Regions from separate parts of the Homo sapiens genome. Here all the other regions are linked to region 3. Evidence: fine-mapped expression QTL. A gene starts in region 3. Each other region holds a variant in brackets. All regions are shown on one strand. Distances are from middle to middle. Region 1 holds the start of POLR2G (RNA polymerase II subunit G). Region 2 holds the start of SNHG1 (small nucleolar RNA host gene 1). Region 3 holds the start of TMEM223 (transmembrane protein 223).

Evidence for each region. PIP is the estimated chance that this variant, and not a neighbour inherited with it, causes the effect.
Region 1: its variant is fine-mapped to the expression of TMEM223 in whole blood (INTERVAL, PIP 0.92).
Region 2: its variant is fine-mapped to the expression of TMEM223 in whole blood (INTERVAL, PIP 0.97).

The regions. Positions count from the first base shown.
Region 1 is chr11:62,757,498-62,765,673 of GRCh38, forward strand. POLR2G (RNA polymerase II subunit G) reads left to right here and starts at 4,083. Exons shown (of 8, transcript NM_002696.3): 1 at 4,083-4,163; 2 at 4,298-4,407; 3 at 5,370-5,529; 4 at 7,685-7,735; 5 at 7,843-7,908; 6 at 8,156-8,176. The coding sequence starts at 4,152. RefSeq lists an enhancer at 4,092-4,291. The variant G/A (reference allele first, on the strand shown) is at 4,563.
Region 2 is chr11:62,847,813-62,855,988 of GRCh38, forward strand. SNHG1 (small nucleolar RNA host gene 1) reads right to left here and starts at 8,073. Exons shown (of 9, transcript NR_152585.1): 1 at 7,612-8,073; 2 at 7,321-7,404; 3 at 6,707-6,739; 4 at 6,206-6,252; 5 at 5,989-6,021; 6 at 5,740-5,778; 7 at 5,263-5,303; 8 at 4,999-5,027; 9 at 4,166-4,869. SNORD22 (small nucleolar RNA, C/D box 22) reads right to left here and starts at 5,223; the gene lies at 5,098-5,223. SNORD31 (small nucleolar RNA, C/D box 31) reads right to left here and starts at 5,581; the gene lies at 5,514-5,581. It overlaps SNORD30 (small nucleolar RNA, C/D box 30), which reads right to left and starts at 5,920; the gene lies at 5,851-5,920. It also overlaps SNORD29, SNORD28, SNORD27, SNORD26, SNORD25 and LOC124900306. RefSeq lists enhancers at 2,628-2,817, 2,868-2,927, 6,205-7,179, 7,817-7,896, 8,007-8,176 and 1 more. The variant G/A (reference allele first, on the strand shown) is at 4,345.
Region 3 is chr11:62,788,770-62,796,945 of GRCh38, forward strand. TMEM223 (transmembrane protein 223) reads right to left here and starts at 3,237. Exons shown (of 2, transcript NM_001080501.3): 1 at 2,910-3,237; 2 at 1,202-2,146. The coding sequence starts at 3,225. The coding sequence ends at 1,854. It overlaps TMEM179B (transmembrane protein 179B), which reads left to right. Exons shown (of 5, transcript NM_199337.3): 2 at 254-441; 3 at 523-657; 4 at 832-910; 5 at 1,117-1,631. The coding sequence ends at 1,278. It overlaps NXF1 (nuclear RNA export factor 1), which reads right to left. Exons shown (of 21, transcript NM_006362.5): 14 at 7,691-7,798; 15 at 7,518-7,576; 16 at 7,297-7,412; 17 at 7,132-7,174; 18 at 6,166-6,238; 19 at 5,489-5,671; 20 at 3,872-3,932; 21 at 3,361-3,745. The coding sequence ends at 3,707. MIR6748 (microRNA 6748) reads left to right here and starts at 1,046; the gene lies at 1,046-1,116. It also overlaps MIR6514. RefSeq lists an enhancer at 2,637-3,146 and a silencer at 3,217-3,366.

The sequences.
Region 1 (8,176 bases), 31 kb before region 3:
TCTCCTTCCTTCCTTCCTTCCTTCCTTCCTTCCTTCCTTCCTTCCTTTCTTTCCTTTCTTTCTATTTCTTTCTTTGTCTCTTTATTTGTCTCTCTCTGTCTCTCTCTTTCTTTTCTCTCTCTCTTTTCCCCTTTTTCTTTTCTTCTTTCTCTCTCTTGTCTCTCTCTTTCCCCTGCCTCCCTCCCTCCCTCCCTTCCTTTTTTTTTTTTTTTAAATCAAATTATTGTTTACCAGACATGGCCCCTGACTTCTGATGCTAGTCAAAAGCCCCAGGCTGTTTTACCTATGCCTCTGACTGACCAGCTGTAAATCTAGGCCCCCACAACTCTACTTGGGCTTGGTTAACTTGCTAGGGTGGCTCATAGAAATCAGGGAAACACCTACTTACCTTTACTGGTTTATTATAGAGGCTATTTGAAAGGATGCAGATGAAGAGGTGCCTAGGGTGAGGTATGGGGGAAGGGATGTGGAGCTTCCGAGCCCTCTTCCGGTGTGCCACCTTCCAGGAACCTCCAGGTGTTCAGCTATGTGGAATCTCTGAACCCAGTCCTTTTGGATTTTTGTGGATGCTTCATTATGCAAGCATGACTGCTGAAACGATTGGCCATTGGTGATCAACTCAACAGTTCAGCACCCCCTCCACTCCCCAGAAGTTGGGGGTGGGCTGAAAACCCCAACCTTCCAATCATGCCCTGCTCTTTATGGTGACCAGCCCCCATCCGGAAGCTACCTAGGGCCTGCCAGCCATCAGTTAACATTAGCATACCAAAAAAATCACTTTAGAGATTTAGGAGTTGTATGGCAGAAAATAGGGTCAAAGAAACGTATATTTCACAATATCACACTGTTTCGATAGGAGACAGCTCGATTTTCACATCTGCTTCTATTAGCTATTAGGATATATTGTTTTGATTGAAATACATGAAGAAAATTTGGTCTCACACAGACATGTAACTAGAAGAGCACTTCACCAATCCCCTGAAAGGTTCTTTTGGGGACCACAACTTCAGAATTGCTGTTCTGAGCTTTCAGGCTCTACGTGCACACACTTTGAGGAGCAGACACAACAATCCTTGTCATTGCTTTGGTGTCTTTTTTATCCAAAGTTTCAGTCTCAGGCAGTAGAGTTTACAGTAGTGAAGAATGCGACTTTCCCAGGTGTGAGGGCTCACACTTGTTATCCCAACACTTTGGGAGACAAAAGCAAGAGGATCACTTGAGGCCAGAAGTTCAAGACTAGCCTGGTCAACAGAGTAAGACCCACATCTCTGCAAAAAATAAAAAATTACCCGCGCATGGTGACCCATACCTGTAGCTGGGGAATGCAATGAGCACTCCAGCCTGGCAGCCTGGGTGACAGAATGAGACCCTTTCTCAAGAAAAAAAAAAGGTGGGGCCGGGCGCAGTGGCTCAGGCCTGTAATCCCAGCATTTTGGGAGGCTGAGGCAGATGGATTACCTAAGGTCAGAAGTTCGAGACCAGCCTGGCCAACATGGTGAAACCTGGTCTCTACTAAAAATACAAAAAAAAAAAAAATTAGCTGGGCGTGGTGGTGGGCGCCTGTAATCCCAGCTACTTGGGAGGCTGAGGCAGGAGAATCACTTGAATCTGGGAGGCGGAGGTTGCAGCGAGCCGAGATTGCACCACTAAGTTCCAGCCTAGGCGACAGAGTGAGACTCCAACTCAAAAAAAAAAAGAAAGAAAGAAAAAAGAAAAAAAAAAGGAACACAAGCTTTGGAGCAGGTCAGCTATTCATACCCAAATACCTCCCCTTAATCTTTTTCTGGCTTATGTATAAGGTAGGAATAATAATAGTATCAGTGTCAACCTAAAATAATCCGACGGGTCAGAACCTAATTTAGAGTTTTTTCAAGTGCGAAGTATGAGAATGGAACACCTGGAACCACCAACTCCAGAAGAATGGAGTCAGTGTTGTGAAGTAAGAAAGTTAAGATTTCATTTATATAGGCAAGCACACATGACTTTTTAGCAGGATTACATTTTTCACAGAAGATTGGTACATAGTTATAGCAATTTGGTTGGCTATAGACAATGTTTCTTTTTGGGAAGTATACATGTAACTTTTTTTTTCCAATTTTTTTTTATTTGGAGTTTCGCACTGTTGCCTGGGCTGGAGTGCAGTGTCAAGATCTTGCCTAACTGCAACCTCCGCCTCCCGGGTTCAAGACATTCTTCTGCCTCAGCCTCTGGAGTAGCTGGGATTACAGGCACCTGCCACCACACACGGCTAATTTTTTGTATTTTTAGTAGAGATGGGTTTTCACTATTTTGGCCAGGCTGGTCTTGAACTTCTGATCTCGTGATTTGCATGTAACTTTTTTTTTTTTTTTTTTTTTTTTTTTTTTTTTTTTTGAGAGGGAGTCAGCCGGGCGCGGTGGCTCACGCCTGTAATCCCAGCACTTTGGGAGGCCGAGGTGGGCGGATCACCTGAGGTCGGGAGTTCGAGACCAGCCTGACCAACATGGAGAAACCCCGTCTCTATTAAAAAAAAAAAAAGAGAGAGGGAGTCTTGCTCTGCATCCCAGGCTGAAGTGCAGTGGAGCGATCTCGGCTCTTTGCAATCTCAGCTTCCCGGGTTCAAGCAATTGTCCTGCCCCAGCCTCCCCAGTAGCCGAGTAGCCGGGATTACAGGCATGAGCCACCAGTGCCCGGCGCATGTAACATTTTTTAACAGAGGATGAAATAGTCATGGATTTCCTACACTTCAGCCTGGGCGACACAGCAAGACTCCGTCTCAAAAAAAAAAAAAAAAAAAAAAAGAGTTAATCTATAATCTGAGAACAGAAGTTGTAAACTATATGTGACTCGCAGTCATATCTCTCTCGAGGCTTAAAGTGTTTTTTGGGCTTCCAATAGCTCTTAAATTTTTTTTTTTTTTTGAGACTCCGTCTTGCTTTGTCGCCAGGCTGGAGTGCAGTGGCGCGATCTCAACTCACTGCACCCTCCGCCTCCCGGGTTCAAGCGATTCTCCTGCCTCAGCCTCCTGAGTAGCTGGGACTACAGACGCCTGCCACCACGCCCGGCCAATTTTTTGTATTTTTAGTAGAGACGGGGTTTCGCCATGTTAGCCAGGATGGTCTCAATCTCCTGACCTCATGATCTGCCCGCCTCGGCCTCTCAAAGTGCTGGTATTACAGGCGTAAACCACAGCGCCCGGCCTAAATTTCATTATTTTCTGTAGCTTCTTGGCCTTTTGGCTAAGGCTCGTAAACATTTTTTTTTTATTTCTACACCAATTTCTGTAGATTATTATGAGAATTAAGGGAGAGAATTATATCAAGCGCTTAGCACAGTGTCTGGCATCTAGGAAGAAAGTAGTAAGTGATAGCATTTATTTATTTATTTATTTTATTTATTGAGATGGAGTTTCGCTCTTGTTGCCCAGGCATCTAGGAAGAAAGCAGTAAGTGGTAGCATTTATCAATCTATCTATCTATCTATCTATCTATCTATTATCTATCTATCTATCTATCTATCTATCTATCTATCTATCTATCTATCTATCTGTTGAGATGGAGTTTCGCTCTTGTTGCCCAGGCTGGAGTTCAGTGGCAAGATCTCGGGCCGCCTCCCAGGTTCAAGCAATTCAGATAGTTGCCGACCGGGCGCGGTGGCTCACTCCTGTAATCCCAACACTTTGGGAGGCCGAGGTGGGTGGATCACCTGAGGTTGGGAGTTTGAGACCAGCCTGACCAACATGGAGAAACCCCATCTCTACTAAAAATACAAAATTAGTCAGGTGTGGTGGCACATGCCTTTAATCCCAGCTACTCGGGAGGATGAGGCAGGAGAATCGCTTGAACCCGGGAGGCGGAGGTTGCAGTGAGCCGAGATCGCGCCACTGCACTCCAGCCTGGGCAACAGAGGGAGACTCCGCCTCAAAAAAAAAAGTTGTCGTTTGATGGCTGGGGGGCGGGGGTGAGGGGCGGGGCTTAGTGGTTCTCGCCCACGACGGCGAGGCCCAATCAGACCCGCGGAGCTGGTGGAGTTCCGCCCTCGCGGAGGAGGTGGTGTTCCGCCCTCCTAGTCGCAGCAAGCGCGGAACTGGGGTTGCGGCGTCTAAGTGTTTCCGGTGGATTCCCAGGGACTGTCGGAGGTGTGGACTCTGCCTGCCTACCTGGTCTGGGAAGATGTTCTACCATGTGAGCAGGGCTCAGGGTGGCGGCAAGGGCTGGGTGGAAAGGAAGAGCAAGGCCAGGCGCCGGCGCGAGACTCCCCTTGTCGTCCAATAACCTGCCAGCGCCTGGCCTGGTCGCCATCCCACTTTTCTCCGCAGATCTCCCTAGAGCACGAAATCCTGCTGCACCCGCGCTACTTCGGCCCCAACTTGCTCAACACGGTGAAGCAGAAGCTCTTCACCGAGGTGGAGGGGACCTGCACAGGGAAGTGAGTGTCGAGCTCACCGCACCGCCAGATCGTTCGATGCGCACACGGGGCGCTATACCTGCAACCCCTCCCCAACTCCTACTCGTCCTGCCACCCACTCTGGGGACCCCTCTCCTCTCTCAGGCAGCCAGTTGCTTCCTGCTTTGGGTTCCCAG[G/A]GCGCCCTCTGCAATGCTGGACAATAAGACTTCCTTCTCTCAGCTGAGATGGGTCATTCATTGACTCCTCAAACATTTTAAAAACCCTTGGTGTGTGCCAGGACCCGTGTTGGGCTCAGAACAAGGTAGAATGGGAACAAGATAGAATGAGGACAGCCCCTGTGGAGCTCACAGTGTAATCATTGTTCCTGTGTCTGCTCTCCCTCTGTCATTCTGCTGGTTTTCTCTTATCCCCTGTGCCCAGGGACCACACACCATGGGCCTCTATATATCTTCTGAATGAATGACCAGAAAAAGCAGATCGAGAGTTTGGGGGAGGAAGGAAGTAGCCTGGGATTTGACCATCTCTGGGCTTTGCACAGAGGGGCCTCTCTGATATTAATGAGCTGGGACCCAGCTCAGGGCAGTGGAGTACTTGGGCCTCCAGCATCAGAAAAACCTGCAGGAACATGCAGATTCCTGAGCCTCCTTATTCCCTACAGAATCAAGACTGTCTGGGGCAGACCTGAGAATCTGCATTTTAAGAAGATGATTCTCAGGCATCCCGAAGATTGAGATCTGTTGCCTCAAGGACTCCAGCCTTCTTGGACATTTATTGTGAAATTACCAGAACAGCATTTGGTCTTACACATACTGATCTCTGTTCTGTCTTCTTTTGGTCATTAAGCTCTCTGGGAGCAGAGGTGCTATCTACTTGTCCTTTTGCTCTCCCCGACCCTACCCCCAAGAGCTCAGCGACTTTTATTGCAGATGTCTTTAGAGGCTCTTGGACACACAGTGTCTTCCTGTTTCTCATCCTCCTTGCAGGTATGGCTTTGTAATTGCTGTCACCACCATTGACAATATTGGTGCTGGTGTGATCCAGCCAGGCCGAGGCTTTGTCCTTTATCCAGTTAAGTACAAGGCCATTGTTTTCCGGCCATTTAAAGGGGAGGTCGTGGATGCTGTTGTCACTCAGGTCAACAAGGTGAGACCATACATAGGGGAGGCAGTGGGGTAGTCTCTCGGAAGATCTGGGTTGGGTTCTGGCTCCACTTCATAACTCTGTGCCTTTGGCTAAGTCACTTCACTTTTTTTTTTTTTTTTTTTTTTTGAGAGAGTTTTGCTCTGTTGCCCAGGCTGGAGTGCAGTGGTGCGATCTTGGCCACTGCCACCTCTGCCTCCTAGGTTCAAGTGATTCTCCTGCCTCGGCCTCCCAAGTAGTTGGGACTAAAGGCACGTGCCACCATGGCCGGCTATTTTTTTTTTTTTTTGAGACGGAGTCTCGCTTTGTCACCCAGGCTGGTGTGCAGTGGCGAGATCTCCACTCACTGCAAGCTCCGCCTCCCGGGTTCACACCATTCTCCTGCCTCAGCCTCCCAAGTAGCTGGGTCTACAGGTGCCCACCACCACGCCCGGCTAATTTTTTGTATTTTTAGTACAGACGGGGTTTCACTGTGTTAGCCAGGATGGTCTCGATCTCCTGACCTCGTGATCCACCCGCCTCGGCCTCCCAAAGTGCTGGGATTGCAGGCTTGAGCCACCGCGCCCGGCCTGCACTTTCAAATTATATGGTAATCTTGCCCTGCCTAACTCAGAGGGCAAGAGAGTCAGTATTAATAGTCATAACAATAAAAGCCTGTGTTGATTGAGTAGTTACTATGGGCTAGGTGATGTGCAGAGACTCACAATGACTCTAAAAGGTGGGTTTTTTTTTTTTTTTGAGACGGAGTCTAGCTCTGTTGCCAGGCTGGAGTGCAGTGGCGCAATCTCGGCTCGCTGCAACCTCCGCCTCTGGGTTCAAGCGATTCCCCTGCCTCAGCCTCCCAACTAGCTGGGACTATAGGCATGCGCCACCATGCCCAGCTAATTTTTGTATTTTTAGTAGAGATGGGGTTTCTCCATGTTGGTCAGGCTGGTCTCGAACTCCCGACCTCAGGTGATCTGCCTGGCTCAGCCACCCAAAGTGCTGGGATTATAGGCGTGAGCCACCGTGCCCGGCCAGTGGGTGCTTTTTACAGAAGCTGAAGCTTGGAAGAAATTAAGTGTACTGGCCAAGATCATGTGGCCAACAGGTGTTCAAATCTTGGACTAACACGTCCCAGGCCTAAGCTCTTTAATACTTTAAAATGAAAGCTTAGGCTGGGCGCGGTGACTCACATCTGTAATCCCAGCACTTTGGGAGGCTGAGGTGGGCAGATCACCTGAGGGTGGGAGTTCAAGACCAGCCTGGCCAATATGGTGAAACCCCATCTCTACTAAAAATACAAAAATTAGCCAGGCATTGTGGCATGTGCGTGTAGTCCCTGCTACTCGGGAGGCTGAGGCATGAGAATCACTTGAACCTGGGAGGTGGAGGTTGCAGTGAGCTGAGATTGCATCACTGCACTCCAGAGTGGAGAACAGAGTGAGATTCTGTCTCAAAGTAAATATGTAAATAAATACAAATGAAAGCTTAAAAAAAAAGAGAAAAGGGCTGGGTGCGCTGGCTCACACCTATAATCCCAGTGCTTTGGGGGGCAGAAGTGGGAAGATTGCTTGAGCCTAGGAGTTTGAGACAGCCTGGGCAACATATCAAGACTCTGTCTCTACAAAAAGTTTTTAAAAATTAGCCTAGCATGGTGGTGTGCACCTGTGGTTTCAGCAACTTGGGAGGCTGAGGTGGGAGGATCGCTTGAGCCCAGGAGTTCAAATTTACAGTGAGCTGTGATCGCACCACTACTTTCCAACCTGGGCAACAGAGTGAGACCCTGTCTCAAAATTTAAAAAGCAAAAAACAAAAACACAACACTTGAGGGGACAAAGAAAAGGCAAGATCACTCTTTTGTTTTTTTTTTTTGAGACAGAGTCTTGCTCTGTTGCCAGGCTGAAGTGCAATGGTGCAATCTCGGCTCACTGCAACCTCCACCTCCTGGGTTCAAACGATTCTCCTGCCTCAGTCTCCTGAGTAGCTGGGATTAGAGGTGCACGCCACCATGCCCGGCTAATTTTTGTATTTTTAGTAATGACGGGGTTTCACCATGTTGGTCAGGCTGGTCTGAAACTCCTGACCTCGTGATCCACCGGCCTCGGCCTCCCAAAGTGCTGGGATTACAGGCGTGAGCCACCGTGCACGGCCGTAAGATCACTCATTTTTTTTCTAGGTTGGACTCTTCACAGAAATTGGGCCCATGTCTTGCTTCATCTCTCGACATGTAAGTCTGGGCACACTGGGTGGGGCTGAGGAAGACAGATACTCATTCATCACCATCTATTGAAGCATCCATTTAAAGTGCTAACCTAGATCTCACTTTCCTTTCAGTCCATCCCTTCAGAGATGGAGTTTGATCCTAACTCCAACCCACCATGTTACAAGACAATGGATGAGGTGAGTGGACAGAAAGAAGTCAGGGAGACAAGGAGAGAATCAGCCATCCTGAGGGAGAATATTGGCCTGGGGATGGCTGAGTACAGATGGTCCCCGAATTACCATGGCTTGATTCATGATTTTATGACTTTACGATGGTGTGAAAGTGATGTGCATTCAATATGCCCCCGGGCTTACAGTGAAGTGATTGTGATGTAACTTCTCATAAACTGAGGAGCATCTGTACACTGTTCCCTCCTCTCCTCAGGATATTGTGATTCAGCAGGAC
Region 2 (8,176 bases), 59 kb after region 3:
AGGAATTAGCTTTGACCTCCCGGGCTCAAGCCACCCTCTCAAGTACCTTAGCCTCCCAAGTACCTAGGACTACAGGCATGCACCACTATGCCTGGCTAATTTTAATTTTTTGTAGAGATGGGGTCTTGCTATGTTGCCCAGGCAGGTCTTGAACTCCTGGCCTCAAGCAACCCTCCTGCCTTCACCACTCAAAGTGCTGAGATTACAGCCATGAGCTACCATGCCTGGCCAGGTATTTGCATTTTCTCCCTCTATTCACACTCTGCTGAAATGTCCCATGTAGGGCCCTGGCTTTCCTTCCCTCTGTTCTCTGGTGATGACTGACTCAAGGTCTCTAGCCTGCTGGTCAATGGTGCCAGGCACCATTACAGGTACTTTATATGTATTAACAACCTTAAGAGATAAGTAGGTGCTTTTAATGTTCCCTTTTACAGAAGAGGAGACTGAGGCACTGTGGCCAGGTGATTTTCTTTTTTTTTTTCTTTTTCTTTTTTTGTTTTTTGAGATGGAATCTCGCTCTGTCAACCAGCTGGAGTGCAGTGGTGTGATCTCGGCTCACTGCAAGCTCCTCTGGAGCTTAGGGAAGAGGTTCTTGCTAAAGACCTTGTAGTCTGAGTCATTAATGTACAGAAGAAATGTGAAGAGCCAGGCCTCAATCATTCTGGCCTTCTCCTCCATTTCTCCATATTGTCCCAGTCTCATTTCTTTTTTTGTTTTTGAGATGGAGTTTCTCTCGTTGCCCAGGCTGGAGTGCAATGGTGCGATCTCAGCTTACCACAACCTCTGCCTCCCGGGTTCAAGCGATTCTCCTGCCTCAGCCTCCCGAGTATCTGGGATTACAGGCACATGCCACCATGCCCGGTTAATTTTGTATTTTTAGTAGAGACAGGGTTTCTCCATGTTGGTCAGACTGGTCTTGAACTCCTGGCCTCAGGTGATCCGCCTGTCTCAGCCTCCCAAACTGCTGGGATTACAGGTGTGAGCCACTGTGCCCGGCCTTTTTTTTTTTTTTTTTTTTTTTTTTGAGATACAGTCTTGCTGTGTCGTCCAGGCTGGAGTCCTCCCAGGTTCAAGAGATTCTCCTGCCTCAGCCTCCTGAGTAGCTGGGACTACAGGTGCATGCCGCTACACCCGGCTCATTTCTTTTAGTAAAGATGGGGTTTCACCATGTTGGCAAGGCTGGTCTTGAACTTGTGACCTCAGGTAATCAGCCCACCTTTGCCTCCCAAAGTGCTGGGATTACAGGTGTGAGCCGCTGCACCTGGCCAGTCCCCACCTGACTTCTTTGTGGCTTTAACAAAAGATTCAGCTGTGGGCAGTGGGGAGACTTCCCTCAGTTTGCAAGTCAGTACCGTGCAGGTTCCCACTGCTTGCACTGCTTTTCTAAGTTTCTGTTCTGCTGATCCTCCATCTCTAAATTCTGGTGCTCCCCTAGGGTCCTTGGGTGGTCTTCTCAGAATTGACTCTTCCATTCTTGTGGTTGTAAATTATTGTGCTGACAACTCTCAAGTCTATGTGGCTACCATTTAATGAGCAAAAAATGTGTGTTGTTTCAGCTGAGTTGCTGTTCTTATAATTCTGACCGGAGAAATCCTAAAATTTACAAACAAAAATTAAAAACAGGGCCTGGTGCGGTGGCTCACACCTGTAATCCTGGCACTTTGGAAGGGCGAGGTGGGTGAATCATCTGAGGTCAGGAGTTCGAGACCAGCCTGGCCAACATATAGTGAAACCCCGTGTCTACTAAAAATACAAAAATTATCTGGGTGTAGTGGCACACGCCTGTAGTCCCAGCTACTTGGGAAGCTGAGGCAGGAGAATCGCTTGAACCCGGGAGGCAGAGGTTGCAGTGAGCCGAGATCACACCACTGCACTCCAGCCTGGGTGACAGAGCGAAACTCCTTCTCAAAAAACAAAAAAAAAGTAAATAAATAAAAAATAAAACAGGTAAAAATCCCGTAATTTATCACTACTTGGTGTCCATTCTCCCAAACACTTTGAGAAATATAAGGGTAGTCATTATCTGGTGGCTTACAACAGAATCACCCAAAGGGGGGCTACCTGTCAATGCAGGCTGGAGTCTCCAAGCTCAGGGAAGATTTAAAAAATTGCTCTTCTGAGGGATGCAGGGTGCAGTGGCTCATGCCTGTAATCTCAACACTTTGAGACACTGAGGCAGTGGGATCACTTGAGCCCAGTTCGAGACCAACTTGGGCAACATAGTGAGACTATCTCTACAAAAAATTAAAATTACCTGGGCATAGTAGGCATGTCCCTATAGTCCCAGCTACTCGGGAAACTCAGGTGTCGGATCGCTTGAGCCCAGGAGCTTGCGGCTGTGTTGAGACATGATGACACCACTACACTCCAGCCTGGGTGACAAAGAGCTTCAAAAGAAACAAAAACAAACACACACACAAAAAAAACCACACAAACAAAAAAAAAACAGAAAAAACTGAAGAAATCTCTCCAAACATATTCTGCCTGGTTAAAAAGATTGAGAACCGGCTTTAATACCTGGTGGCTTAAAAAAAAACCCACAAAAAACAAAAAACAAAGAAAAGCAGCCAGGTGCAGATGTCTGTAATCCCAGCACTTTGGGAGGCAGAGTTGGGTGGACTGCTTGAGCTCAGGAGTTCAAGACCAGCCTAGGTAATATGGTGAAACTGTCTCTAACAAAAATACAAAATTAGCTGGGCATGGTGGTGTGCACCTGTGGTCCCAGCTATTTGGGAGGCTGAGGTGGGAGAATCACTGGAGCCCAGCAAGTTGAGGCTGCAGTGAGCTGTGATCGCACAACTGTACCACAGCCTGGGTGACAGAGCAAGACCGTCTGAAAAAATTGAGAGCTGCTGACCTAACCATACACAACTCTGTACCCCATAGTATCCACAGGTTGGCACTGTCCCTGTGCTTTCCCTTCTTCCTCAAGGCCAATTAAAAAGCAGAGATTTGGCCAGGCACCGTGGCTCATGCCTGTAATCCCAGCACTTTGGGAGGCCGAGGCGGGTGGATCACCTGAGGTCAGGAGTTCAAGAGCAGCCTGACCAACATGGAGAAACCCCGTCTCTACTGAAAAAAAAAAAAATATATATATATATATATATACATATACACACACACACACACACACACACACACACAATAATTAGCCAGGCATGGTGGCGCATGCCTGTAATCCCAGCTACTTGGGAGGCTAAGGCAGGAGAATCGCTTGAACCTGGGAGGCGGAGGTTGCGGTGAGCAGAGATCCTGCCATTGCACTCCAGCCTGGGAAATAACAGAGAAACTCCGTTTCAAAAAAATAAAATAAAAAGCATAATTTGGCTGGGTGCAGTGGTTCCCACCTGTAATCCCAACACTTTGGGAGGCCGAGGCAGGCGGATCATGAGGTCAGATCGAGACCATCCTGTTAACACGGTGAAACCCCATCTGTACTAAAAATACAAAAAAGTAGCCGGGTGTGGTGGCATGCGGCTGTAGTTCCAGCTACTCAGGAGGCTGAGGCAGGGAGAATGGCTTGAACCCAGGTGGTGAAGTTACAGTGAGCCAAGATAATGCCACTGCATTCCAGCCTGGGTGACAAGAACGAGATTCCACCTCAGAAAAAAAAAAAAGGCACAGGTTTGGGAGGCAGGCAGATCACTTGAGGTCAGGACTAAGCCTGGTCAACATAGTGAAACCTCTACTAAAATCCCAATAACTAGGCTTGCTTCGTGACAGGTATCTGCAATCCCAGCTACTCGGGGCTGAGGCAGGACAATCACTCAATCCAGGTGGAGGCTGCAGGGAGGCGAGATGGCACTACTGCACTCCAGCTTGACTCCATTGTCCCTTGCTTCCCCCAGGAAAAAACAGATTTGGGCTGGGTGTGGTGTCTGTAGTCCCAGCCCCAGCTGCTGGTTAAAGTCAAGTAGGTTTGCTTAAGCCCAAAAGCTTGAAGCTGCAGTGAGGTTGTGATCATGTCACTGTACTCTAAGACTAGGCAAGAGAAAAAAAAAAAAGATGGATGTTCTACTCAGGTTACTCATTTAACACACTGCCTATCAGGCAAACTGTCAGATGTCCCTTCAAGTTCCAGGTACTTCAGGGAGCATGAGAGGAAAGCCAGTTTCCCATGGAAATTTACACACTGATGCTAAGAGACACATACACACAAAAAAAGTAAACAGGACTATGTAATCAATCATTTTATTATTTTCATCAACAACCAACACAGCAACACAAATTGACAGCCAGTCCTCAAGGGAACCTTTTTTGAAGTGAAGAGCAAGGCCCTGAATGAGCTACCTACATGGAACATAGTATTTGCAATATGCAAATGGAGACCTAAAGGCTCATGAC[G/A]GGAACAGAAGGTGGCTGTATACAGAGGAACAGACACGAAGTGGAGTTATGGGAAGTTCAATCAACAATTGGCAACAAGCTAGGTCAGTAGTTTACGAAAGTGGTCATCTATACAGTGCCTGAGTTTGGGTTCTGGGCCTGGATCATGTAAGAAAGGCAGCAAAGTCTGGGTGCCATGAATCACACCTGCAATCCCAGCACTTTGGAAATCTGTGGTGAGAGGATCTCTTAAAGCTATGGCCTTGAAACCAGCCTGGGTAACAAAACCAAGCCCTTGTATCTAAAAAACAAAAGGGCAGGTAGATTCCAGATAAATAATGTTGCAGGAAGGGGGTGATAAAATACAGAAATGTGATACACAGCAAACCCTCAACTGCTGTTTCATTGGCTCCCAGTGTCTTAATCTGTGTCTGCTAACACTTTAAGGTACATCTGAAATACCCCCCAAACCCAGAAAGCTTTTCAACAGCTAGGTTGTCCAAGAACTTGGAAAATTCACCTTCTGATGTCCTCCAAGACAGATTCCTGCAGAGGTAAAAAAAAAAGTTCTTATTGGATTGGAAAATACAAATGAACACAATATTTAACACTATGTAACCTAGGAGCAAAAGGTTGCTATTATAAAATCAGTTAAATATTTAAACAGATACCTACCATTTTTTATACACCTTATTTGCTCAGACCTGGAAAAAATAAAACCAATGTTTTCAACAAGTGATGATTACTCCCTTTCTCTGTATAGAAATCTTTATCATCCCTCAGACAGTTCCTTCTGGAACAAATCTTCCTCTTCTCCCCCAGCCAGTCCCAGTGGGTTCACCTTTACAGGCTCTGGGACTAGGACAGAGAGTAAGACATGTGAAAGTTTCTTCATTGGGAATTTTTAGCATAGTCCACCTTACATTTAGGTTTACTCACCTGTAACTTCAGCCTGGAGTGAACACAGACACCTAGTTTTCCTGCAAAATCAAGAAAGAAAAATGTAGTCTTGAGAGACTTTCATTCTATGTCACATTTTACAATCTCTCAATTGTATCTATTGCTTGGCAGAAAGAAGTTTCAGGGCACATTTTATAGGAAACACTACTTAGCCCAAGAACTTCCTATTGGCTGTAAAGCCTCCTCAAATAACTTGCAATTTTTAGAACATGTCACTGGAAGGCAGGCTCACAGCTCAGAAAATACCTTTCAGTCACACATTGATCAGACTGGGGCGGTATTCAACTCATCACTGGTGAGCAGCAATTCATCACTGGTGGTTCAGGAGATCAAAGACTTTGGGTTAAGCCAGTTATGTCTGTGTACATTCACCCAGACCACAGTGCTATCACACACAAAAATCACAGAAAATTTTATATAGCAGCCATTGATGGTAACTATTGCAAAGCCATTTACCTCAAACTCCTCTTGGGCTTTAGAGAGAAGGTGCTGGCCCTGAAAGGAGGAAGACCAAGTCAGTAGTGCTTCTCATATCCCGCATTATGTTGTTCCCACCCATCATTCTCAGAAAATCAGATTTCAGAGTCTCAACAGCAAGTCATCAGCCGAACGAGATTCCATGTAAGTCATCACAAACACAGGCCTAAAAAGGCACTTTTTCCTACCCTATATACTGAGTGCATTGAATACCGTGAAATTACTCACCTTTGAGCCAAGCAGGTTATTGGTTAGTAGTACCTAGAGAAAAACAAAGCTGTGGGTGAAAGATTCCTCAGACATGGTTACCCCCCACTCCCTGCGTTCTCCAGTTTCTCAGGTGTTCATGTATTTTCACTGTCGGTCATAGTGAGCTAGTTTGATTCATCATAGAAACTGCCTACTTGGTGGCATAAGCTGTAAGGAACAAAAAATATCAACTAACCTCTCAGCTCTGAAGGCTTTTCAATGGTATATAGCAACAAGCTGCTCCTGAATCAAAAAATCATTCAATTAGCTAATTATCCCAAACAGCCAAAACTATTTTAGTTACGGTTGCTAATGGACAAACTAAGAAAAGGTAACCAAATGTCTCAGACAATTCCTTATGGAATAAGCTCTCATGCCCTCTTCATGTTAACCCTGGTGAGTTCACAATTACTGGTTCCCAGGCTAAAACAGGGGTAAGGCAGGATGTTTCCTCCTCATTGGAGCAGAATCCTGGAAAGCTACAACTGACAAGCATTCGTCTGACCCTGGGCAGATCAGTGGGCATCTATCTGAGAAAAAAGGGGCATATATCAGTGGGCATCTATCTAGAAACATCACTACAGAGAACAAGAGGAACCAGAAAACTTTATGGGTTAAGCAGGCTTTGGTAACAAATATCAAAATGGCTAAGTTATCTATTAGATAATAGGCCCATAGAATTCGAAAAACAACTTACTGTAAGATAGAGGCAGACTGTCATCAGGAATACCTGGAAAGGAAAGCAAATTAGTTATTTTAAGGTATTAGGATGGAATGAAGCTTATTCATAAACAACAACTGCCATCAGAACTCTAACATGCTATTAACTTTTGTACCTCACAGAACATCAGCTTATCAATTCAAATCATCTGACAGTAACGTGATCGATATATGGATGAGGGTAACAGCACACCCTTACAAGAACTGTAGTACCGGGTTGCGATCTCCCTCCCCAGAAAATCATTTCAAGAGGAACAAGATGGAAGGCGCCAAAAAACATTGTTCCGCCGGCCACTTGTTTTCTTGAACATTTACAAAGATGACATACACCAATTTGGATAATTACCTGTATTCACCCTGGGAGGCAGCTGAATTCCCCAGGATAGATTATGAGATGCTGTAGACAACAGAGGAAAGCATTTTATGTACCTAAAAATAGTCATTCAAAGACCCCTTAAGACCTCTCTCTCACTTCTCAGTAGTAAGATGACATCACTTGAAAGTTCAGCCATATGCTTGTCATTTTGTGTTCATCATGGAGTGGTTATCTACAAGGTCTCCTCTGTAAGAGCATAAACCATGTACACCTACCTGGAACATTACTGTAACGCTGGCTTTGCATAAAGATGGGTCTTGTCCCATTCCTTCACCAGTAAGCTCTTGTGGGCTGAACATCTGAAAAAATAACACCCTTCACTAACACCTCAGACAAATCAATAGGGCCCTGACATTTGTTGCGTACAGTACAGTGCTACTCAGAATTTTCTGTTTTCTCCACTAATCCATCAGAAAGAGAGAGTTCAGTTCGTAAAATCATCCCCGTAGCAACTTCCACACACTCAACGAAAGAGCAGAGATTAAGAAATGGCCGTAAGAACTTACTGCAACAACAGAGCTCTCTTCGGTTCCAACGTGCGCGTAAATCCTGCAGACAGGAGCCCAATAAGACATTAGGTCAACTCAGGGCATTTCGAAAACGCTATTTTCTGAACAGACGGCTAAGCAAGAGGCTTGCAGGGCCCATCTCCTCAGAGTTATTTATCCTCACGGAGCTCAGTACAGGTCTGTGAAAAGGTCCTCATCATAGGAAGGGGGACCTACACGGCCCGCCATCGCCATTTTGTCCTTCACAAAGCCCCACTGCTACTTTTAAGCCTCGAGGCCACGCACAAGACCTTATCCGCCAGTCGCCCTGGCCAGGCAGCTACAACACAGAAGGCATAGTGCGTGCTATGCTATGTTCGCACAATCGCTCAAAAGAAAATAAAAGAAAAAGACAAAGTACAAAAGAGTAACAGCTATAAAGACCACGAAGCCACTTACCACGAGCAGTAGAAAAATGAGAACGAATCTCCCCGGGGAGACGATTAAATACCATGCCGCAGAGGCCCACGGGATTTGGGGGCGGGGCTACGGCGAGCGCACGCGCATACGTTGACCGCATGCG
Region 3 (8,176 bases):
ACTTGTGAGGCTTCTCTGAAGCTCATTGCATTCTATATTCATTGCCTATTTTCTGATCCTTCTGGCCACTGCCGGTGTGATTCCCCAGCAGGCCCTCTCCATCAATATCCCTGTCCCAGAAATAGGAATTGACGGTGCACAAATAACTTCCTGGAATGCAGGACCATTCCTAAGTTATCACTAACACCCTACCAAGAGACTGTATCTAGAGACATTAACCTGAAATCTAGGACTCAGCAGCTTCTCTCCACAGGGCTCCTTCAGTGGTAGATGTCCCCTGTATGGTGTGGCCACCCTGAATGGCTCCTCCCTGGCCTTATCCCGTCCCTCAGCACCATCCCTGTGCTACTTTGTAGCTGGGGCCTCTGGCCTCTTGGCCCTCTACTGCCTCCTGCTTTTGCTCTTCTGGATCTACAGCAGCTGCATCGAGGACTCCCACAGGTGACTGCCTAACCCTGAGGGCCAGGGGCTGAGGTAGGATGAGCCTCACCTCCACCACAAGGCTTGTTCTCTCCCTTTCAGAGGTGCTATAGGGCTGCGCATTGCACTGGCCATCTCAGCTATAGCCGTCTTCCTGGTCTTGGTGTCTGCCTGTATCCTTCGATTTGGCACCAGGTCTCTCTGCAACTCCATCATCTCCTTGAACACTACAATTAGGTAATGGGAGAGGGAGGGAAGCCTGGCTGGGGCTGACTACCTTCCCTCTGCAGCGGGGTCCTATAATTTCCTTTTATCCCCATCAGTTGCTCTCAACTCACAGGGCACTGGGCACAGGTGTGCCTCGGATATAAACTATCACGCTTTCTCACAACTGTCTCTTTGACCTCACAGCTGTTCTGAAGCCCAGAAAATTCCATGGACACCCCCTGGAACTGCTCTGCAGTTTTACTCCAACCTACACAATGCTGAAGTGAGACCCAAGGATAGGAGGAAAAACTGACATAAATATCTGTAGCTGTGTGGGTGCTCACCAGTGTATTGTGAGCTTGGCCTACCAGTGAGAGGAGCTGAAGGGGTTGTCAGCTTAAAATTCAGCAGTTCAGAGTGGTGTGTGGGTGGGAAGGACTGGATTTGAAATGGTCCCACTCCTGACGATCCTGTCCCTGTCTCCTACAGACCTCTTCTTGGGTGAATTTGGTATTGTGGTGTGTGGTCTTGGTGCTCCAGGTCGTGCAGTGGAAGTCTGAAGCCACCCCATACCGGCCTCTGGAGAGGGGTGACCCTGAGTGGAGCTCTGAGACAGATGCTCTCGTTGGGTCACGCCTTTCCCATTCCTGAAGAATAAGCGGAGTGCTTCCTGCAGCCGAAGACTCCATGCCCAAGTGCCTGTAATCCCCCCCCTCAAGGCCCTGTTTATGTTGGGAGTCTTAGTTTTCCTTTCGTTGGGGGGTGGGGGGGAAACATAATGACAGGCCCCCCTCCACCTCTTCCTGCAGCTGTTTTTGTACCAAAATATTATATTACTGTCTTCATCTTAGTAGTGAGTTTTTGATGTTAAAGTACAACTAGATAGGAGGAAGGAGTGAAGGCTAAGCAGACATGGACTGAAACTTAGAGGTACTGTTAGGCAGCTGCCCTAGGGATGACTGCTCCTTTATTTGTTGTTAATGAATCTTGACCTCCTTGTGTGACCCTGGTTGTTACTCCATTCTAAGATTGGCGTTTTTTTTTGTTTTTTTTTTTGTAAATAGAGACAAGGTCTCGCTATGTTGCCCAGCCTGGGCTCGAGCAGTGCTCCTGCCTCACCCTCCCAAAGTGCTGGGATTACAACAGGTGTGAACCAACACACCTGGCTCCCCAAGGTTCAGTTTTTATCCTCCTCTTGGAGAGGTGAGTGACTTGAGGTCATTTCTTCACAAGCTCCGGTAGGCACCCACAGTATTGTCAAAGAGTTTTGTGTTAGGGAAGTGTCCAGTTTTGTCCAAGAGGAAATAGAAGCGTCGGCCTTTGACTTTCAGAGGTAGCATGGCAGGGACTTCACCCCGGTGGGCCATGCAAGATACCTGCTTCAAAGGAACTGTGAAATGGGCCCCCAAGCCAAAGGGGGCATGAGTGGTGAGGGTCACCTGCTGCCCTCCAGCTCGAAGCACCACTGAGCGCACAGACCGGAGAGAGAAGAGAAGACCAGCACCGAGTACGAGGGCTCCTGCAGGCAGGGCAGAGATTGGGGTGAGGGGTTTTCACTGGGCATCTAAGTACCGACCTTTCCAGTGCCCTCTGAATAAGAAATTTGTGGGATGAAAGTAGTATTTACTGAGCGCTTTTTTTTTTGAGACTGAGTCTCACTCTGCCGGCCAGGCTGGAGTGCAGTACTGAGCTCCTGTTATACCCAGTAATCTTGTTATTCCTCCCAACAACCTTAATAGATGTCCGTTTCCATTTTAATGGGAAGATGGAGAGCTTTAAGGACCTTGCTCAAGGTCGCAGAGTGAAGGGCAGCCCTCAGCCTAGGCTATGACAGGGCACGGCGCTCGGAGACATCACTGTTTCCCAATTTTTTTTTTTGAGAGGGGAGTCTCGCTCGGTCGCTTAGGCTGGAGTGCAGTGGCGTCATCTCGGCTCACTGCAACCTCCGCCTCCCAGGTTCAATTGATTCTCCTGCCTCAGCCTCCCGAGTAGCTGGGACTACAGGCGCTTGCTACCACGCCCAGCTAATTTTTTGTATTTTTAGTAGACACAGGGTTTGACGGTGTTAGCCAGGATGGTCTGGATGTCCTGACCTAGTGATCCGCCCGCCTCCGGCCTCCCAGCATTTGAGCCGCCGCGCCCGGCCAGTGTTTCACATTTCTGTGGGGTAAAGCCCGCCCGCCACTCTCGGATAGGGAGTCCCTGACTCTCCCTGCCTGTATAGGGAAGGTCGTGTCCCGCCACCCCACGTTGTCACAGTGGGAAGCCAGCCCACGTCTTACCGATGGCGCCGCAGCCGACGGCCAGACCGTAGCGCCAGAGCGCGGAGCGCAGGTCGAAGGGGCCACGATTTGGGACCTCCGCATCCAGAGGCTGCACCGGAACCGGGGGCCGGGACACGGCTGCCACAGCCATGGAAGCCCAGAAGACGCCCTGGCCCGCGCAGAACAGCCCGAGGATGGTGAAGAAGCGGCCCCGATCATGCTCAAAGAGCAGCACATCCCGTTGCAGCGTCGTGCCTTGCAGGGGCCGGCAGGTGAGCAGGGGCCGCAGCACGGCTAGCAGCCCCGTGGGCCATCGCCTCCAAGGCGCCGCCATGGCCAGCCGACTTCCGGGGTGGGGCTTCCTGCCGCAGAGCCGCCTTCCGCCCTCCCTGGGCGCCCCCGCTAGAGGGCCCGCCCCCCTCGCTCAGGGCTGGGAGGAGACAACCAATCCAGCACGCAGAACACGAAATACAACATCACTCTTTATATTAAAAAGTGCAGAACACGAAATACAACATCACTCTTTATATTAAAAAGTAAGGAGGTCCTGGGGTTAAGTACACAAAGCACCTAAGTCCTTCGGGTAGTTTAGTGTCAGTTCTACAAAGTAAGCTTTGGCTTCCTGGCACCAGTGAGGCTCAATCTTCTGAAGTCTTCCAGAAGGCAGGCGAGGAGAGGGATCAGGCAGCCCTCCCTCCCTCGGTCACAGTCACGGGGCGGCCTCGGGCCAGACAGGAGGAGATGACAGACGACAACCAGACGGTAATATCCAAGGACTATTTACAGGGGGGACTGCTTCTGAGGCATGACTACGATCACTTCATGAATGCCACTTCTGGGATCTCGCCCTTGGCCTGGAGAAAAATGAAGGTCAGTAGAGGTAGGCCTACCCTCGCCACTCAGCAACCCCACTCAGCTAACCTGACCTCCTGGAGGCCCAGAGATCCTAGTCTTTTTGCCACTGTATTTCCAGACCTTACCTTGAGATGAGTGAAGGCCTGGGCAGATCTGGTGTAGTCCCAGTTGTTGTCCTGAAGGCACCTGGAGTGGAAGAACAGGCAGCTCTGTAAGAACTCTGACTCGTAAATGCCAGCTGAAAGTCCACTCCATAAAAGCACCCAAGTTTGCCAACAAATATGTACATTCTTATACATCCTTGCACTATTTATACAAATGAGACATTAGTAAAAGTCCAGATGTTCTACCAATGGCTTCTCAAAGATAAGGAATATTAAATAGCTGTCAAGAAGCTCAAGATAGTTTTTACAGTGGTAGGGAAAGATGTTCATGGTGTAAGTAAAGAAACTAAGTTGCAGAACAGTATATGAAAAGGAACTTCCATTTTACCTTTAAAGTTTTTTATGTTAATTTATACACAGGCAAATTTTTTATAGACTATCAGGTTTGTGTTTTTCTGTTTGCTTTTTTTTTTTTTTTGAGACCGAGTCTTGCTCTGTCACCAGGCTGGAGTGCAGTGGCGTGATCTCGGCTCACTGCAACCTCCGCCTTCCAGGTTCAAGCAATTCTCCTGCCTCAGCCTCCCGAGTAGTTGGGACTACAGGCGTGGAACGCCAAGCCCCGCTAATTTTTGTATTTTTAGTAGAGACGAGATTTCACCATGTTGTCCAGGATGGTCTTGATCTCTTGACCTCGTGATCTGGCCGCCTCAGCCTCCCAAAGTGCTGGGATTACAGGTGTGAGCCACCTCTCCCAGCCAACTATTAGGTTTTTTTAAGCAGCCAAAAGTTTTGCCTTTTAAAATTTCAGGAGCCCAGGCACAGTAACTCACACCTATAACCGCAGCACTTTGGGAGGCCTAGGTGGGCAACATGGTGAAACCCCATCTCTGCAAAGAAATACAAAAAAATTAGCCAGGTGCTGTGGCCTATGCCTGTAGTCCCAGCTACTCAGGTGGCTGAGGTGGGAGAATCACCTGAGCCCTAGCAGTTGAGGCTGCAGTGAACTGTGATCACACCACTGTACTCCAGCCTGGGCATCAGAGTGAGACCCTGTCTCAAAACAAACAAGCAAATAAAAATTTGGCTGGGTGCAGTGCCTCATGCCTGTAATCCCAGCACTTTGGGAGGCCGAGGTAGGCAGATCACAAGGTCAGGAGTTCGAGACCAGCCTGGCCAACATGATGAAAGCCCGTCTCTACTAAAAAAAAAAAAAAAAAAAAAAAATACAAAAATTAGCCAGGCATGGTGGTGTGTGCCTGTAATCCCAGCTACTCGGGAGGCTGAGATTGGAGAATTGCTTGAACCCGGGAGGCAGAGGTTACAATGAGCCAAGATCGCACCACTGCACTCCAGCCTGGGCAACATAGCAAGACTCCACCTCCAAAAAAAAAAAATAATAAAATAAAATAAGGTGGCACATGCCTATAGGCCCAGCTACTCTGGAGGCTGAGGTGGGAGGACAGCTTGTGCCCAGGAATTAGAGGCTACAGTGAGTTATGATCACCACTATACTCCAGCCTGGATGACAGCGCAAGAACTTGTCTCCAAAAAAAAAACAAAAAAACTGTCAGGAGCCCTCATTATTTACTACTAGCCCTACTTCAGTGCATCCCCATCCTACACATGCCCCGCACTCACTTCTGGGACCACTCGAGGTTCATGCCAGACTGGGTAGAGAATGCTTGCAACATTTCCTGCTGCTCTGGAGAGAGGGTGGGCACCGGGCTGGAGGAAGGCGTGGGTGCAGGCATAGCGAAGGCTCTTTGGATCTCTTCAGAACTGGCATTCCGCACAAATAGCTCATCATTTACAATACATAGCCTTGAGGACAAAGAGCACTTAAAAAGCTAGACAGAGATAACATCATCCTCCCAACATCATTCCTATTCTCTGATTCTTTCAATATCCACAAGGTCCCCCTCCCACTCTTAGCTATTGTTACCTTTTATCATTTATCCCCTCCCATGGAATCAATGTTTGGAAGGATTATCTACTAAACACACTAGGGTTCTCCCAACGCATGGACTTTAGCTCTTTTAATTCATCCTCACAACAAACTTAGGAAATGAATATTGTTATATGAATTTTCAGATGAGGCAGCAGCCTACTTGCTAGAAGTGGTGGAGCCAGGATGAAAACCCAGACGGTACAATTCCAGAGCCAAGCTATTAACTGGCTCTTAACTACTATGTGAGCTTTCTCTGATTTCCTGTTGCCTTTCTGAAATCACCCCAAAGACTGACTCTACCCTCCAATTACCACACTGTTGGCCATGGATTAGGACTGGTATCCAATGCGAAAAGCAGAATACTTACCCTGAATTGCTAGCAGGAACAGCAATGAATGTCCGGGTGAAGGCTCGCAAAGAATCCCGGGACTTTCCGTCCACTGCAATAAGAACAGCAACAACACCTTAGGGTCACTAGTGCTTTATGTTTACAAACAGCTTCTTGAATCATGGTCTTTGATATAAAGAATCCTAGCAAGTCAGAGAGGAATGATTAAGTATATAAGGGTATAAGGGAAGCACAGGTGGGGTGAAGGGTCAGGTCAGAAAGGACAATAGTAATAACTACGGCCGGGCACAGTGTCTCATGCGTATAATCCCAGCACTTTGGGAGGCTGAGGTGGGCAGATCACGAGGTCAAGAGATCGAGACCATCCTGTCCAACATGGCGAAACCCCTTCTCTACTAAAAATACAAAAATTAGCTGGGCGTGGTAGTGCGCACCTGTAGTCCCAGCTACTCGGGAGGCTGAAGCAGGAGAACCACTTGAACCCAGGAGACGGAGGTTGCAGTGAGCCAAGATTGCGCCACTGCACTCCAGCCTGGTGATAGAGTGTGACTCCATCTCAAAAAAAAGTAATAACTACTAATCCACTGATAGCATCTGTATGCCAGGCCCCAGGCCAAGCACTTTGTAAGTCACTTCAGTTTACTTCCTATAGCACCACTATGAGACGGCTATTACTAACCCCATCTTACAAATAAAGAATCTGTCTTAGAGGTAATGTTACTTGTCCACAGCCCCGCACAACCAAAACTAGGATGGAAACTAAGAACTGCCTGACTCCAAAGTCCTCCTAATCCCCAGGCTTTTCCCACATCCAGACAGGACAGGTGGAGAGGTAGGCCAAGCCAAGACGGCTTGGGGGCAGAATGGGAGAAGGAGCTCAAAAAGAAAATGGGAGAGAAAGTAGCTGGGAAGCTAAGAGTGCTGAGGAAAATTCCAGCTGGGGGTGGGACCACGCTACAAACTCGGGACTCTAAAGATTCTTACCTTCCTTGAAGACTCCATTGACAGAAAAACACAGCAATGTGCTCTGAAAGAGAAGCAGCATCAGGTACAATGTACACTTCTCAGAGCCTGAGTGCCCCCCCTTGCCTATTAAATGCCACCCCCACCCCAATTCTAGGCTTCTGTCAGGCGCAAGCAGGAGCTTACTGTCTGGGCGCTTATGTCTACCACGAAGGAATTGACGTCGTGCTGGGTTTTGGGCAACTCATTGAGGAAGGCAACAACGTTGAGACGCGTGTGCTTCAGCAGCCGGAACCGCAAGGCTGTGGGTAGAGGAGAAAGCTCAGTGGTGCTGCCACACACTCCTGAGTTCTGACTGATTCCTTCCCATGCCCTTTTCCCATATTTTGTTCGTATCACACACTTACTAGGGTCTTTAAGCTTCTTCACATTTCTGCTATCCTTGAAATACTCGGCTAAGCTGCTTCTGGGGGAATAAAAGGAATGGACGTGGTGTTCAGAGCAGTGCTGCCAGCAGGTGTGCCCTGTATCTGCTGGGAAACCCAGTGGTCCCGGGCAGATTCTGGGATGTGATACTAACCGGGCAGGGTTCTGAGGAATGAAAGGAATGCTCAGGGAACAGCAGGCCCCATCATGGTAGGCATCCAGGAGCCCTTGTCGGTCTCCAGAGTCGTAAATTGCATAGTACCTATGGGAAAAACAAAAAAGAAAGTATGGGCTCTGTGGTCTACAGCCATACAAGGACCCAGTAGCTCCCAAGAGTGAGTTGTGGCCGGGCATGGAAGCTCATGCCTGTAATCCCAGCACTTTGGGAGGCTGAGATGGGTGAATAGCTTGAGCCCAGGAGTTCAAGACCAGCCTGGGCAACATGGCGAAACCCTGTCTCTACTAAAAATACAAAAAAAATGGCTAGGTGCGGTGGCTCACGCCTCTAATCCCAACACTTTGGGAGGAAGAGGCAGGTGGATCATGAGGTCAGGAGTTGGAGACCAGCCTGGCCAACATAGTGAAATCCCATCTGTACGAAAAATACAAAAATTAGCCAGGTGCAGTGGCACACACCTGT